2 separate regions of the Homo sapiens genome follow, and region 1 is linked to region 2. The links come from fine-mapping of genetic effects on gene expression. A gene starts in region 2. The other region holds a variant in brackets. All regions are shown on one strand. Distances are between the middles of the regions.

Region 1 (8,348 bases), 47 kb after region 2:
ACGACTAGTAAGATTAAATTGACATAAACTACTTTGGAAAATATTTTTACAAAGTTGTTTACAATAATCTTGTAAAGTTGAACATAAAATATAACAGTTTCATCTCAAGATGTATATATCTGGATTTTAGGGCCTTAGAGAAACTCTTGCATGTATACACAACCAGAAGATATGTACAAAACATTCATGATAGTATCATTTGTAATAATGAAAACCTAAAAGTATCCAAATAAATAAGTGAACTGTGGCCCGTTTACACTTCTATGTCTTAAATAGCACTAAAAATTAAAGAGCAATAGCTTCCTGCAACATAATATGGAATGTCAAAGGAAATTGCAGAGCACTCATGAGTTTTTTTTTTTTTTTTTTTTTTGAGATGGAGTCTCACTCTGTTGCCAGGCTGGAGTGCAGTGGCAAAATCTTGGCTCACTGCAACCTCTGACTCCCCGGTTCAAGTGATTCTCCTGCCTCAGCCTCCTGAGTAGCTGGGATTACAGGCACACGCCACCATGCCCAGCTAATTCCTGTATTTTTAGTAGAGACGAGGTTTCACCATGTTGGCCAGGATGGTCTCGATCTCCTGACCTCGTGATCCACCCGCCTCGGCCTCCCAAAGTGGTGGGATTACAGGCATGAGCCACCGCCCCCAGCCTACATGGGTATTTTTTAAAAAGGCAAAAGCAAAACTAAATCATAAGTGTTTTAGAAATGTAAATATATAATTTAAAAGGTTCTATTTTAAAAGCAAGAGAATAATCAACAAAATTATAAATTACGGTTTTAGAGAGGTGAGGATGAGACCCAGGAGGAATATGCAAGTAGTTTCAATGGTATTGGTAATATTCTAGTGGTGCTGTTGTGTGGTATATTGATGGTTGTTTACTTTATTCAATAAATACATACATGTTAAATATATCAACAGTATTCCATAATACAAACGCCTTAATTCAATAGATTTCGTTCTAACGTATAGAATATTTAATTGGGGGACGTCCAGGTAGAGATGTTTCGTCAGCCGATAGTTAAAAATATTTATTATTCTGAAGAGAGGTATAAGCCAGATTTGCAGCTTGGGGAGTTATCACTATAAATATCTTTACAGATTTGGAGACCGAATTTCTCATTTTAAAATGTGAGAATTCGGCAGGGCGCGGCTCACGCCTGTAATCCCAGCACTTTGGGAGGCCGAGGTGGGTGGATTGCCTGAGGTCAGGAGTTCGAGACCAGTCTGGCCAACATGGTGAAACCCCGTGTCTACTAAAAATACATAAAAATTAGCCGGGCGTGGCGGCGTGCATCTGTAATCCCAGCTACTTGGGAGGCTGAGGCAGGGGAATTGCTTGAACCAGGAAGGCAGAGGTTGCAGTGAGCCGAGTTTGGGCCACTGCACTCCAGCCTAGGTGACAGAGCGTGAGACTCCATCTCAAAAAAAAAAAAGAAAAAAAAAAGTGGGAATTCAAGAATGGAATAAATGAGAATGGATAAGTTAGAATGTATGATGTATATTCGTAAAAAAGTTAAAGAGATCAGAGAATTTCAATTTAAAGAAAAGGGCATGTTTTCTTAAGAGAGCAGCCACTGTCCTGGAACACCTGGATACATCTTAGCAAGAAAGGATGGTGGGTGATGTCTGAAACCAGAAGCTTAGGAAAGGAAATAGGTGGAAGTTTAGAAAGGATTGTCTCAAGAGAGGGTTTGTGCTATAAGGTGAACATTCAGGGAAAAAAATATATACATACTTAAGGACACATGTCCTGTATGTCAAGAGTGGGAATAGAATTAGGCCTTTTAAAAACATAGCTGTCTTCAGCCAGGGTCATTGGCTCATGCCTGTAATCCCAGCACTTTGGAAGGCTGAGTTGGGTGGATCGCTTGAGGCCTGGAGTTCAAGATGAGCCTGGGCAACATGGCAAAACCCCATCTCTACTAAAAACACAAAACTTAGCTGGGCGTGGTGGCACATGACTGTAATCCCAGCTACTTGGGAGGCTGAGGCATCAGAGAATCGCTTGACCCCTGGCACAGGGGGAGCGGAGGTTGCAGTGAGCCGAGATTGCACCACTGCACTCCAGGCTGCGTGACAGAGAGACTCCATCTCAAAAAAAATAAATAAATAAATAAAATAAAAAGCTGTCCTCATCTCAGTACTTTCACTAGTGCAGAAATTGATAAAATGAAAATGCAGAAACACTGAAAAGTCTTCATCCGAAGCATCTTCCAGAAATTCCCGTATCCTCCTTTCCCAGGATAAGTGAAAGAACATCCACAGATGATAATAATTCATCCACTGGGCTAATTTATATTTTACAGAAAAAGAAGTAGGAAACTTGAAAATGAGCTCATGTTTCATTTCCTGAGGCCCTGCTATGAGGATTCAGTTTGTCATAGGTGTTCATTGCTTGCTGAAACCCTTCTTGCTTTCTAGGCTGAGACATTTGAAACTTTCTTTAGGAAAAAGAAAAACAGTTGCTTAGTCATCTTCCAAAGGGATGGACCATAGCAAGCACTCTTGAGGCTCTTTGTAGTGGCTCCCAGGGAATAATTATTGTTTCTGTTGCTTTGAACCTTCCACCTCAGTGACTGGCAGTGCTAGCATAAATGGTATTTGGCTAATATTAAGAGAAAATGTATTTAGAAATAAGCTAAACTAGCACCTCCAGAACACTTTGCTGTATGACTATGGAGAAGCATCTGACTCAAAGGGAAAGGGGCTTTCAGTTCCAGGCAAAGATTGTCTTTGGCTTAAGTCGGGAGAAATGATGGAAACAGGAAGTTTTTCTGTTGCTCTTTCCATGAGAGGTTAGTTACAAAGTGATGATGACATGGTGATAAAGTAGAGGCCGGAAGAAACGGGATGGCAATTATATGACAATACAGACCAGGAATGGGCCTCGAGTTTTTAAGGTAGCATTAGATCAGAGAGAGAAGAGAGTTGATAAATGTATGGACATACCAAATCAATCTCTATCAGTCTTCCTTTCACTTGAAATTAGGGGACAAGGGAGACATTGTGAAAATTAGCCCAATCTTGCCATTGTAGAGAGAAGTTAACTCAGTCCTTAGAAATACAGCCCAGCTTCCATTCATGGTAATAATAGTTACCATTTATTAATGTTAGTCATTATTCTGAATATTTTACATGTAATTTTCATAAGATTCTCATACAGGCAACTCTCTTTGGTAAATATTATATTACCATCCCCATTTTACAGATGAGAAAAATAAAACACAGAGGTTAAATAGCTTACCCAATGTCACACACTAGTTCATGACAGAGCAAAGTTTTCTTTGTATCTGGGCAGTATGAGCCCAGAGCCTTCTCTCCTGCCCACTGTGCCTCCAGCAACATTTCTACTTGGAGCTGTAAGCGAGGATGTTTAAGGGAGGTGCAGAGAAAACTATCCTAGAGCAGACAGTTGCTGACTCTGCACACATTATGCATGTCTGTTTTAATCTGTGTTCTTGTCTCCTTTCCTAAATTTCTAAAACTCTGTATTAATTATTGTAATTACAAACTGTGGATGACAGCCATAGTAGTTATTTCCACAATTTGAGTTTGTGGAAAAGGCAATCAAGATTATCAAGTAGTTGGTATAAATAACCCATAACCTGGAAAATTTTTTACTTTTGTTTTTTTCTTTTTTGAGTTGGGGTCTCGCTGTGTCACCCAGGCTGGAGTGCAGTGGAGCCATCTTGACTCACTGTAACCTCTGCTTCCCAAGCTCAATCAATCTTCCCACTTCAACCTCCAGTGTAGCTAGGACTATAGGTGCATGCCACCATGCCTGGTTAATTTTTGTATTTTTAGTAGAGATGGGGTTTTACCATGTTGCCCAGGCTGGAATCTGAGAAAAGTTTTAAGATGAAGTTGCAAAGAAGGAAATAACTAGGTGGTTGGCAGAAGAAAAACCAGAAAAGACAAGAAGGCCAGGGAGAGATTAGAGATTTTTTCTACTGTTTTCACAAAATAATACAATATAATATAATAAATGCCATACAATAAATATAATGGTATACAAAAGAAAAACAAGATATATTTGGGATATTGATATGAGAGAAATGAACATCAGAAAATTAGAAAATTGGTGTTCTTAGTATTGGAATAACCACAAAATTGTCTGTGGTTCTATGTGGTCTGATGAAAGAAGGAATCCTAGTACAGGATCCTAAGGATCTGGATTTGAGAAAGAGCTTTGCCATTTGAGAGCTGTTTTCATTTGTGATTTATATATTCATTCA[T/C]TCAGCAAGTATTGTTGAACATCAATCATGTGCCCACGTTGTTCTAATTGTTGCAGATGCAATGGAAATGTTAGACCAAGTCACTCTCCTCATGGAAATGTATAGTGCAAGGCAGGGGTCAGCAAACTTTTTTTGTGAAGGGACAAACAGTAAATATTTTAGGCCTTACAGCTTGTATGGTCTGTGTCACAACTACTCAAATCCACGGGTGCAGTGCAAAAGTGAGCACAGACAATACAAAAATGAAAGAGCTGGGCATGGTGGCTCATATCTACAATCCCAGCAGTTTGGGAGACCAAGGCTGAAGGATCATTTGAGCCCAGAGTTTGAGACCAGCCTGGGCAATATAGTGAGGCCCCATCTCTAAAAAAAAAAAAAATTAAAAATTAGCCAGGTATGGTGGTGTGCACCTGGAGTCCCAGCTGTTGAAGAGGCTGAGGTAGGAAGATTGCTTGAGCCTGGCAGGTCGAGATTGCAGTGAGCTGTGATTGTGCCACTGCACTCCAGCCTGGGCAACAGAGTGAAATCCTATCTCAAAAAAAAAAAAAAAAAAAAGAAAGCAACAAAAGGACATACTGTGTTCCAATAACACTTTATGTTTTAAAAACAAGTGGTAAATTAAATTTAGCTGGCAAGCTAAAGTTTGTCAATTCTTGGTCTAGAAGAAGAAACAGACACAAGCCAAAAAATTATGCATATGATAACACGTGCAAAGATCCGGTGGCGAGAAGACATATCAAGCTTTGGAGGCACTGATAGGAGACCAATGGAGCTGCTTCACGGAGAGACACATGAGTGAGGCTGGAAAGGGAGGAAGGGGCAGGCCAGCAGGGTCTTGTAGGACACTTAGGAGTTTGGTCTTTACAATATTGACAGTTGGCAATTTTTTGATTATTTTAAGCAGGATGAAGACATGATCAGATTTGAGTTTCAAAAGCTCACTCACTGCAGTGTTAGAATGAGTTGGGTTAAATTTTCTCATCTGAAACATAAGGATGGATACACTTGCCCTGTGTATTGAACAGGTCATTGTGTAATCAGTGATCACACAAGATTTATACAAGGTGCATAGAAGTGTTTTATGAAATATAAATGCTATAGAAAATTACACAGCAATATTTTACAGGAAGCAATACCACCAGATGGTCATATTCTTTCAAGTTTTTTCTGTGAACAAAGGCAGTCTGAACTCATAAAAGAAATCTTTTTGTTTATGTTATCAGGCTTCCCTCACCAGGGTAACTACCCCTTAGGGAGTTCACTAAAGAGAAGGAATGTCTTTCACTCTCTCATACTTTCTCCTCTCCCCTCTCCCAAGCACATCTGAGTTGCTGCCTGTTCTTCACACTTAGCTCCAAACCCATGAAAAATTGCCAAGTATAAAAGCTTCTCAAGAATGAGATGGATTCTAGGGTGTCTTCACCTGAGAAGCAAGATAAAGAGAATTTCGTGGGTAAGTTCCTTTTTCCTGTCTTAGGCTTGTTTTTTACATATATGGCAAAGCAGGAGTTGTAGCATTATAGACAGGTATAGAGTAAGTATGAGATATATTTGCAGAAATCGGCCTCAATTTCATTTATAGCCCAGGATTTTGAATTCATTGCTTATGCTGATTTCATTTGCTTCTTGAACGGCAGTCTATAACTTGCTTTATTTTTCCTTCAATTTTAGATAAAGTTGGTGTTTATCTTTGAATTTCTTCTTTCTGTATGAAATCCTTCTCAGGATTTTGAATTCATTGCTTATGCTGATTTCATTTGCTTCTTGAACAGCAGTCTATAACTTGCTTTATTTTTCATTCAATTTTAGATAGAATTGGTGTTTATCTTTGTATTTCTTCTTTTTGTATTAAATAACAAAGATATGTTGAAGAGGCTGACTTTTCTCCAACTTCAAACATTTTCTGATGATGCTGAGATTAAAAAGAAAAGTTGGTTTGAGCTGTATCCTGTTTGATAAATGGAGAGAAGTTGAGAAAAAAAACTTAGCTTATAAGTACCAACTACTATCATTAATACTAATGACTATTATGTGTTACAAAGCATTTTGCTTGCATTATCTCTTTCAATTTTACAATAATTCTGAGGTAGATCCTCTTAGAATCTCATTTTACAAATGAGAAAACTGAGCATTGGAAAGTTTAAAAAGTTGTTCAGAAAGTGATTATGATGATGGTGTGCGTGTGTGTGTGTGTGATGATGGTGTGAGTGTGCGTGTGTGTATGACCTAACCTGTGCTCTGTACCTTATGTTGCCAAAAAAGCCATAGTACATGTTAGAAATAGAGAACACGTTTGGCATTACTAATACATAAAAGAAAAAACTAGGCTGCATGCACTGGTGCATGCCCTGTAATCGCAGCACTTTGGAAGGCCAAGGCAGGCAGATCACTTGAGCTCAGGAGTTCGAGACCAGCCTGGGCAAAATGGCAAAAACTCATCTCTACAAAAAATACAAAATTTAGCCAGGTGTGGTGGCACATGCCTGTGGCTAAGTGGGAGGTTGAGGTGGGAGGATTGCTTGAGCCCAGGAGGTTTAGGCTTCAGTGAGCTGAGATTGCACCACTGTACTCCAGCCTGGGTGACAGAGTGAGACCCTGCCTAACAAAGAAAAAAAAATGGAATAAAGAAAGAAAAAAGAAAAAGTATACATTTAGAGACATTTACCTGAATTGGAAAAGAAACTTTTCTTTTGAAGTAGGCATGAAAAGCTTGAAGGCAGTAAATATCATCTGGAAATGCAAGCGGGAGATCTCAAGAGTCCCCTTATTTATCCTTCATGAGACATTTAGTTTCCATTTTAACAGGTGAAGACATCAACTGGGTAGATGGCATGACTGAAGCTGTATCATCAGTGAGATTCTTGAAAGTACTCATGAGTTTTCTTGGTTTCGATATTTGAATATGAAAAACTGGCACTATCACAGAATGAACAAAATGGGGCTGATATATTTGCAATGTCTGATTTCCTGTGCTTTTGTAGTTTTTTAGGAGAGATACAGTGTGGACCATTCTCTGAGATCTGTGGACTAAGTTTGCCCTTGCAACTCAGATATATATAAAAAATATATATAATACAATATAACATATATAACATATATCTTATATAATATAGTATATAATGTATGATATATATTATGTAATATAGTATATATAATATATTGTGTAATATAGTATATATAATATATTGTATAATATAGTATATATATTATGTATTCTATAGTATAGTATATAATATGTAATAATATATATTATATAATACAGCATATATAATATATATTATGTATTATAGTATATATAATTATATATACTATATACTATAATATATAACTTGTAATATGTACTTATGAATACTTGATATACCTGACAGCACATAAGTGGCAAATATGTTTTTCCAGTTGTCACTTATTTTTTCACCTTTTTAATGATGTGTTTGATATCAAATATATAAAATTTCAATATATAATATATATAAAATATATGATATAAAATATAATATATTATATATAAAATATATGATATATAATATATTATATATAAAATATATGATATAAAATATATTATATATAAAATATATGATATAAAATATATTATATATAAAATATATGATATAAAATATATTATATATAAAATATATGATATAAAATATATTATATATAAAATATATGATATAAAATATAATATATTTTATATAAAATATATGATATAAAATATCATATATTTTATATAAAATATATGATATAAAATATAATATATTATATAAAATATATGATATAAAATATAATATATTATATATAAAATATAATATATTATATATAAAATATATGATATAAAATATAATATATTTTATATATAATATATGATATAAAATATAATATATTATATATAAAATATATGATATAAAATATCATATATTTTATATGAAATATAATATATTTTATATAAAATATAATATATTATATATAAAATATATGATATAAAATATATGATATAAAATATAATATATAAAATATATGATATAAAATATAACATATTATATATAAAATATATGATATAAAATATAATATATTATATATAAAATATATGATATAAAATATAATATATTATATAT
Region 2 (8,348 bases):
TCTTCACCTTCTTTCCTGCTAATAAATGCCTGTAGACCATGCATGATAAACCCTCCATGAATGTTCCATCCATCCTCCCCTCTCCTCCCACCAAAACTAGTTTAGTTCAATAACTACTTCCTTCATGATATCTTGTTCTATTTCTCCAGGCAATTTAGTTTCTCCTCCTAAGTCCATTTTGCTTTAAGAATCAATAGCATAGACTACATTTCATTGTTTCAATACATAATAGATCTGCACCTCCTGATACTAGAGAGGACACAGAAAGGGCACTCAATAAAATGCTTGCTGATTAATCAGCCTGTAGGATACTTGAGTCTGGGATTCTAGGTTTCTAATTTCTACATGCTTAATTAAATAGGATACACACTTATCTCCTGAGCCCACTAGAAATTCTCATACTGTTGCCAGTTACTTTTGGAGGAATCTCCTGGCCTTTGGTGAAGAATAAGTGGGCCTGTTATCAGGATCATTTATTGTGGGCAATCATACCCATCTGTTTTTCAGTTTTCTCGTAGTAATACACTTAGCTCTTTACACACCGCTTCATACACAACACTTAAAACATTATACCAAATATCGAACAAATTAAAATCAATTTATAATATTTTTATAATACCATAAACAAGTAATGTACCTTGGGACAGTTTGATCAATCTGTTATTCAATCCTCCATCTCCATCCACAATGTAAATATCTCCTGTGTCCTCTACATATAATTCTGCTGGGTTATCAAACTGCAAAGGATTCAAACTAGTGCCTTTTTTGCCTGGAGTACCCAAGACTTGAACAAGATCACCAAAAGAACTGTATTTTTTAACAGTATGACCAAAGAATCCTATAAAGATAGATATGTACATCTCACAAATAAAACCACTATACAAACATTCAGATTTTTCAAGTAAGCTAAGAGCAAAAATTTGATAGAAGTAAATAATAACAAATAGGTGATAGGCTTAGGAAATTACATATAATTGACAAGCACTATAGCTTCTTCGTAAATTACAGCCAAATTTGATCACGAATTAAAATCTCCATTAGTCCAAAATAAGCGGATTCTAAATTCAAATAAATAACATCCCCATAATTGACTCATTATACAGGAAACTCAGAATGCTAACAAAGTATTGGTGCACCATTTTCTTTTTTAATCTTATGACCTTGAATAAGCATTGCTTATGAAAGGAAATCAAGAAGAAAATGTAAAGGGAACAACTTATATTTGAAACTGTTATTTCAATCACTCACATACAGACCTTAAATTTCAGTAAGTCAACAAAAACGTTCTCTATGGTACAGATTTTTTTTTTAACTGCATTTTCACCTTGTGGAGACATTCAAAATTCAACCCAACTTTTCTTTGCTAAGAAGAAAATAATCTTTGTAAATCATGAGTATCTTATTTTCTCACGTTAAAATTTCTTTAAGTTAAAATTATCTTACAAGCAAGAGCATAAAGCAGACTACTAATAAGGGAATATCATAAAGCAGTGAACAGAAATCAATTTGAAGGTACATATGCCAAATTAATTGATAGGTATTCAAAAGACAAACTGGATACATTGAGCTTACCAGAAAGAAAGTGAATCAGCTTGCATTACAATTCTATGTTAAATAATTTATTTACTATTACACTTTTAGACAGTTGAGCTAAAGTTCATAGCAATAAAAAACACATAAGCCTCCAAGTTTCTAAAAACTAGCAAAAAAGACTACCAATAAAAAATTTTCTCAAAAAAAAAAGGCTAATTTGTAGCCATATTTTTCATTAGAGGAAATTTATTCCTTTGGGAAATGGGAATATAAAACTGTCTTCAGATCTCTGGGTAGAAAATTAGCTGTAATGGAAAAAATGAAGAGATCGTCTGTGCTCTTTTTATTTCTGGGAATCAAGGAAGTCTTATTTTTAAAAATCACATGAATAAAATGAACTCAAAGAAATGGTCTTTAACAGTGGATCTTCAGGAAAAAAGTGAAAATAGACTCTCATTATAGTATTAACAATTCACTCAGTGATAATCTATAGACTTTTTTTGGTTGAACCAGATTCATACTATGTAAAACACAGCATGAAATAAATGGGCCATCAGCTGAGGCCCAGAAATCTTATGGGTTCTGAGAACAGCTGTGATAATGGCACTACTTACAGAAACTGAGAACTCATTATCTCTAAAAAATGGTATCTGAATCAGCCAGGACTGTAGAACCAGGATGTCTCTCAATTCAAGAACATAACTGGGCCAAGGAATACTAGAAATAATGTCTTTATAATCCCATTTCTTCCTGAATTCCTAGGGTAATGCCAGGATATCTCAGGTATTGCCTTGTCTTAAGCTACAGCCACAGGTGAATTGTTTCTCTGAAAACTTTCTCCATAGCTGCACATTCAGTTGTGCTCACTTCATTTTTCAGCTTTTTCTACTAAAAATATTTGATGGCAGGAAGATTTCAGACATGCTTCAGTCAGTAGAATTTCAAAAACATTAACAACAGTTTCTGCAATCTTTGCACTTTGAGCAACAAAGCAGTTACGATTTCACAATCTTTTATGAAAGAAAACTGGAAAAGGAAAATAAGAGTCAAGGATTCCAGTCATTGCTTTCAGAGACTGCCACTTTATTTGGCTTCAGTTTAGAGTTATTTAATCTGAGAAGAGCAACTGATGCTTTAAAGAGGAAAAGACCCTAGACAAGTTCAAGGAAAGATCATATTAACAGGCTCCTTGTCAAATTTCTTTCTTTTTTTTTTTTTTTTTGAGACAGAGTGTCGCTGTGTCACCCAGGCTGGAGTGCAGTGGCGCGATCTCGGCTCACTGCAAGCTCCGCCTCCCGGGTTCACGCCATTCTCCTGCCTCAGCCTCCCCAGTAGCTGCGACTAAAGGCGCCCGCCACCACGCCTGGCTGATTTTTTTTTTTTTTTTTTGTATTTTTAGTGGAGACGGGGGTTTCACCGTGTTGGCCAGGATCGTCTCGATCTCCTGACCTCGTGATCCGCCCGCCTCGGCCTCCCAAAGTGCTGGGATTACAGGCGTGAGCCACGGCGTCCAGCCCTTGTTAAATTTCTTAATTCCACAGAAGTACAAAATAAAGTTTGTTAAAAACATGTGATTTCATGAATCGTTAAAGAAATTACAATTAGATTCAGCAACTCTGATTTTAAACAATACAAACAAGGACATGTGCAAAGATGTGATTTCCAGTAAGATAATTTAATAGATATTACTATACATACCACTTCCTACATCCGTGATCCAGACGGATTGTTCATATAGAGTACTGGCTGCAAATATACCATGAGGTGTGTCAACTGTATAATTCCAGGCTCGTAGGAAATATCCATCCTCTGTGAACACTAATATCTTTGGGATGTTATCCCCTCTCTGAAGGTATACAAAAAATAACTTCTTAGGATCAGCTTAAAGGAAAGGTAATCTGTATCTTGGCGAAGAAAAAAAATAACTGAGAATTTTACTACAAAAACCACTTTCAAAATCTAACATATCTTTCACATTCGAAACCAAAATACTTGAGACCAACTCAAAAATAAATTGCACAATTAGCATGATATAAACGCATATGGTCAGTTACTACAGCAAGACAGGAAGGCTGTTACTTCCTTTGTGTTCATAATTTTTTTAAATCTCTATTTACTTACTTGACCTATGTAAACCAATCCATTGAGGGAGTCAACTGCAACACAAAATGTTGTTCCGGTAAAATATTCTGGGTGCTTAGGCCAACCCACATCCAGCCGGTAAAGAATTTTCTCAGTTCTCCAGGAAACTGCAAAAGTAAAGTTCCTCAAAACCTTAAACAAAATCAGACAATTCAGATTTAGTTTACCGTCTAGGTAAGAACAAAAAAAGGGCGGGGGGGCCGGGTAACAGGGCTTATTTTTAAGCATGCCTTGACAACTAGAAGTTTGCTGGACTGAAATAATTCCAAAGAAATGAGCTTAGATGCCTAAAGACCAACACGACCACAATACAAGTCTGCAAATTATTTGAGGATGTAGTAAGAGTTGGGAAAGAGGAAAATGGCGATGTAACATACACAAATTTTTAAACTCAAAGGGTCAAGGCAGTTTGGACCCAGGTGCAGGCTTTGAGACAAGCTACTGAGGGAACCAGGGCCTGCCACCTCCATGCCACGACCGTGGCGACGCCTCCCAACAGGGCTACCCGCACACCCGACAGTCATTTCCTCACTACCCAACTCACTGGAGAGCCACAAAAACGCGAATGCAAAACCAAAAATGCAAGAAAGAAGCCAGCACCGGCTACGCAGACCCAGAATCTCGCCATGACCAGACGGGAAGCCAGGAGAGGGAGGGTCCGCAGGTGTCTGGGGGAGGACCTGACAGCCTCAGGCTGCAACGGTTTGCAGCGGCACAGAGGGTCTGCCCGGGGCCCGAAGACCCTATCTCCGGTTTCCCCTCCCTGGATGCACGAGCTTTGAGTACGAAAGGGAACAGAGACCAGGGCGAATGAAAATCACAGAAGACCAGTTCCGGACTTCGTGTGCATTTCGGGGTCCCCGCCCTCATGTCAGGTGCTTCGGGCTGACCCAGTGACCACCCTTTCCCGCCCTCAGGGCAGTCCGCGCCGCTGACTTTCAGTGGCCACCAAAGTATGGGCGCCCGTAGATATGCCTTAATCGCTCGCCATTTATTCTTTTTAATCCAGAGGGCAAAATCAAAACATCGCACACTCAGACACGAGGTATGGTGGGGATGACATTCAAAATAATGACCGCTAGGCTTCGGGAAGGATTTTTGCCACATCCTATTCCTACCATCCAGGCATCCGCTATGGATGCCTATATTCCCACACCAGGACCCCACCTCTGGCTTTCAGGAAAGAGGGGCCCAAGCTGGCGGCGCAGTGTTGAGTTTACTTGGGCGCGACTGGCTTTATTGTAGGTCCCCATGAGCTGGTGGGGGCTGTAGGGGTAACCAGGCAGGGCGTCTGGCGCTGTTGGGGCTGCGTTTTTCCGGAGTCCCCCTATGCGAGGCCGTGCCCCTCTTCGCCCGGCTCCTGGTGCTCCCCAGCCGCCGGCCCGCTCCCGGAAGCTGCAGCAGCTGGTAACAAAGAGCCTGCCGGGCCGCCTGCTGCCGGGGCCGAGGTATCCAGGAGTCGGGCGGAGCGGCTGGGGATGAGCGCGAGCCGGACCATGCGTCCGGGTTCGCGGCGGTGAGGGTCGCGGCCGGCGGCCGAGGCGCAGGTGCGGGTCGAGAGACCGGCGCCTCCCTCCCCGCCGCCCGTGGACTCTGAGCGCAGGTGTTTCTACTCTGCCGGCCGCTCCACCTGGGAAAGCGCCTTCAAGAGCTACCTCTGGCGGCACCTGGCCCTCAGCTGCAGGGAAACCGCACTCAAACCTGCCGCCGAGCCCGGGTTTTTCTGCAAAACTCAGAGGACCTGGCTCTTGCCCGAGGTGCCCTGAACCATTGTGTGAATAAGCTGGGGAAGCCTGACTGGAGTGTTTTTTCTTTTTAATAAAAAGAGTTTTTCTGAATCTCAATTTTTAGAAATTTTTTTTGCGAAGTTTGCAATACTCTCTACCTCTTCGCATCCTCTCTTGCTCGTGGAGTCTTTTTCCTCCTCAGCTATAAATATTTTTTACTATCGGCGGAGCAGACCAGGGATGAACGTCTTTTAATTGCAAGTATAACTGTTAAAACCACGTCGGGATAGTAGTCAAGATGGATAAAAAGTCCTTTGAAATGGTGCTGGATGAAATTAGAAAGGTAATTAGACCGATTCCATGAATTATTTTATGAGATGAATTCTCGTGTTTTAGACTCTCTTTGAGGTACTGTATGGAGATTGTGCAGAATAAGGGTCCTAGGATTGCCAAATTGGTTTGAATTTTCACGTGTAATGGAGGAGTTTATATCTTGATACGTTTCCAGTACAAATAGAAATTAAGTTACGTTAACGCCAAATTTGAGACTCAGCACGGTGTCGTGGGAATTACATTTGTAAAGCCCTCGGTTCCAAAGCCGGCTTTACAAATCCGTAATAGCTCTGTACTTTTTGGGTAAGGGGTTTAATATTTTTGAGTTTATTGCCTCATCTTTCAGTAACACAAGAGTGACTGAAAACGAGAGGTAATACGCAGAAAGTTTCTTTTATGGTAGTTATTATGATGGGGTTTTCAAATCTAAGCATAAGGTAGAGTATATTTGTTGCGTTGGCCATGCAAAATTCGTGTCCTGATGGTAAGTGTGGCATTAAGTTTAAAGTCACGTTCTTAGGAATTGGCCGTCAATAACTTGAGCTTCAAAACTTTTTTCTCCTGCTTTCCAAGTTTTTGCTGCTTTTTGAGGCTGTTGTGTGGATCGCATTTCCCAGAGTGAACCAGACAGCAACAATTCTGGAAGGTAGTCTTGAGCCTAACAATATCTCAAGCACAAAAATACCGAGAAGTTACTTATTTTAAAATGTAAGGACTTGATGTACCATTGTTACATCAACACACGGTGCTTTCCTTCGGCCTTCCGGGCAATTATTCTTTCGTCAGCTGCATACCTTTACGACCCTTGACTGAAACGGAAGAAATTGTTGCCATGTGCTCTGGTGCTTATTTCAGTTTACAAAGCTATTATTAAAATTGTCTCTGGTCTTGCTGTTTTGCTTTGTTTTTATACAGCTTTTTTCTTTTTTCAAATTGACGTGTTTAAGTTTTCATATTTGATAATACTGAACATTCTTTTTTGAACAAGTTCTGCTTTTGCAAACCTAAGTGTCCAATTAATTTTTGAAATAAAATATTGGTTTGCTAATTATATGCCTAGAAATTTGTCACAATTTGTTCTTGGGCTGATTTTTAATTACTTTTCATGAGAAAATAATTGGTGAGTCCAAGTAGACCAGCAGATTTTTACTTTTGGAAGATACAGGGTCTCAGTGTGCATATTCTCTTCCTGGTGTCATAAAAACGTCACAGTAAATTCTAAAGAGGGGAATAGGAAATTTTCCAGATATGAAAGTGTTGTTCACATGAGATGGCAACTTAAGTCTGTATTTCTGGTCAGCAGTTAAAATATATCTTCTGCTGGCTTTGCCGAGTGATTAGACACATCAACATTGTCATGGTCTATTAAAATGGAATAAAATATTGGCATATCTAAATATGAGCATTACTACTGATTTTCTTAAAAATCGTTCTTTGTAAATGTAAGTCAGTTTAAACCAGGTCATCTCTTGAGTATCACAGTGAGTTTATATGATAGATAATACTGATTGTCACTACTGTCATTTAAAACAGAGGCATATAAGAAGCCACTAGCAGAAGAACTGGGAAAGGGAGTAGAAAGGGGGAAAAAGCAATGGTTAACTGATTATTCAAAAAGGAGGGAATGATAGCTATTAATTAGTGAGCACTTACTTTGTGAGCCTGTTTTTAAGCACTTTCTCCAGTCATTATTTGTTTTGATTCTCCTTACAACGCATGAGGTGTAGGCACTGTACTTCTTGCTTATAGCTGGTGGCCTATTCTCTGTGAGGTTAACTATCAGCTCAAGACTCCCTAGGTGGTAAGTTGGGGGCTGGGGGCAGTATTCAAACTATGCTTGCAGAGCACCATGCTGTCCTGCCTGGGGTTACAGCTGGGCCTCTCAGGCATTGATGGAAGAATTGAGATATGACTTGGCATCAGTACAATCCAAGACTTTGTTCAGAAACTTGTATTTGACTGTGTCCGATTATTACATTGATAATAAAACTCCTAGGAATACATTATTTAGAATGCCATTTTCTCCCTTTTCAGTGAATATTGAACTACTGAGCACCCAGGATATTTCAGTTGACTGGTCATAATACTTTCTCCTAGCAGAATGATATATGTGAAAAATATGAATATTAAAATTATTTTATAGTACAAGCAAAGGGATTAGTTCATTTTTAATGATTAGTGGCTACTGACTTAAGATAGCTGTTTCCATCTCTAAGCTGAGCAAATAGCTGCAAGGGGAGCATGTGTGATTTAGTGGGCTCTAGATAGTGCTGCATCAAAGCCACCAACTTCTCTCTCACCCACTGATAGATTCCGAAAAGGAAAGGAACCATCACTTACTGAATACCTGTTATATGTCACATCTAATGTCCACTATTATAGTCTTCATAGTAATTCTTTGAGGTTGGTGAATGGTGTTCCCTCTATGAATGAGGACGCTCAAAAGGAATTAAAATGCCTCTCAAAGTCTACACTGCCAGTTAGTGGCAGGCACAGACATTGAATTCAGGACTTCTTGCATTCTTATGTCCCTATAGAAATACTGAGAGCCTCAACTAGACCTTGTCTTATTCTTGCTTCTCTGTCACTTAGCACATAGTAGATATTCAATAA

What was found. PIP is the estimated chance that this variant, and not a neighbour inherited with it, causes the effect.
Region 1: its variant is fine-mapped to the expression of PROSER1 in whole blood (TOPMed, PIP above 0.99).

What each region holds. Positions count from the first base shown.
Region 1 is chr13:38,988,014-38,996,361 of GRCh38, reverse strand. STOML3 (stomatin like 3) reads left to right here and starts at 5,531. Exons shown (of 7, transcript NM_145286.3): 1 at 5,531-5,692. The coding sequence starts at 5,641. The variant T/C (reference allele first, on the strand shown) is at 4,240.
Region 2 is chr13:39,034,595-39,042,942 of GRCh38, reverse strand. PROSER1 (proline and serine rich 1) reads left to right here and starts at 4,854. Exons shown (of 13, transcript NM_025138.5): 1 at 4,854-5,745. The coding sequence starts at 5,701. NHLRC3 (NHL repeat containing 3) reads right to left here and starts at 4,487. Exons shown (of 7, transcript NM_001012754.4): 1 at 4,220-4,487; 2 at 3,655-3,807; 3 at 3,232-3,379; 4 at 638-838. The coding sequence starts at 4,303. RefSeq lists a silencer at 5,144-5,373 and an enhancer at 6,516-6,625.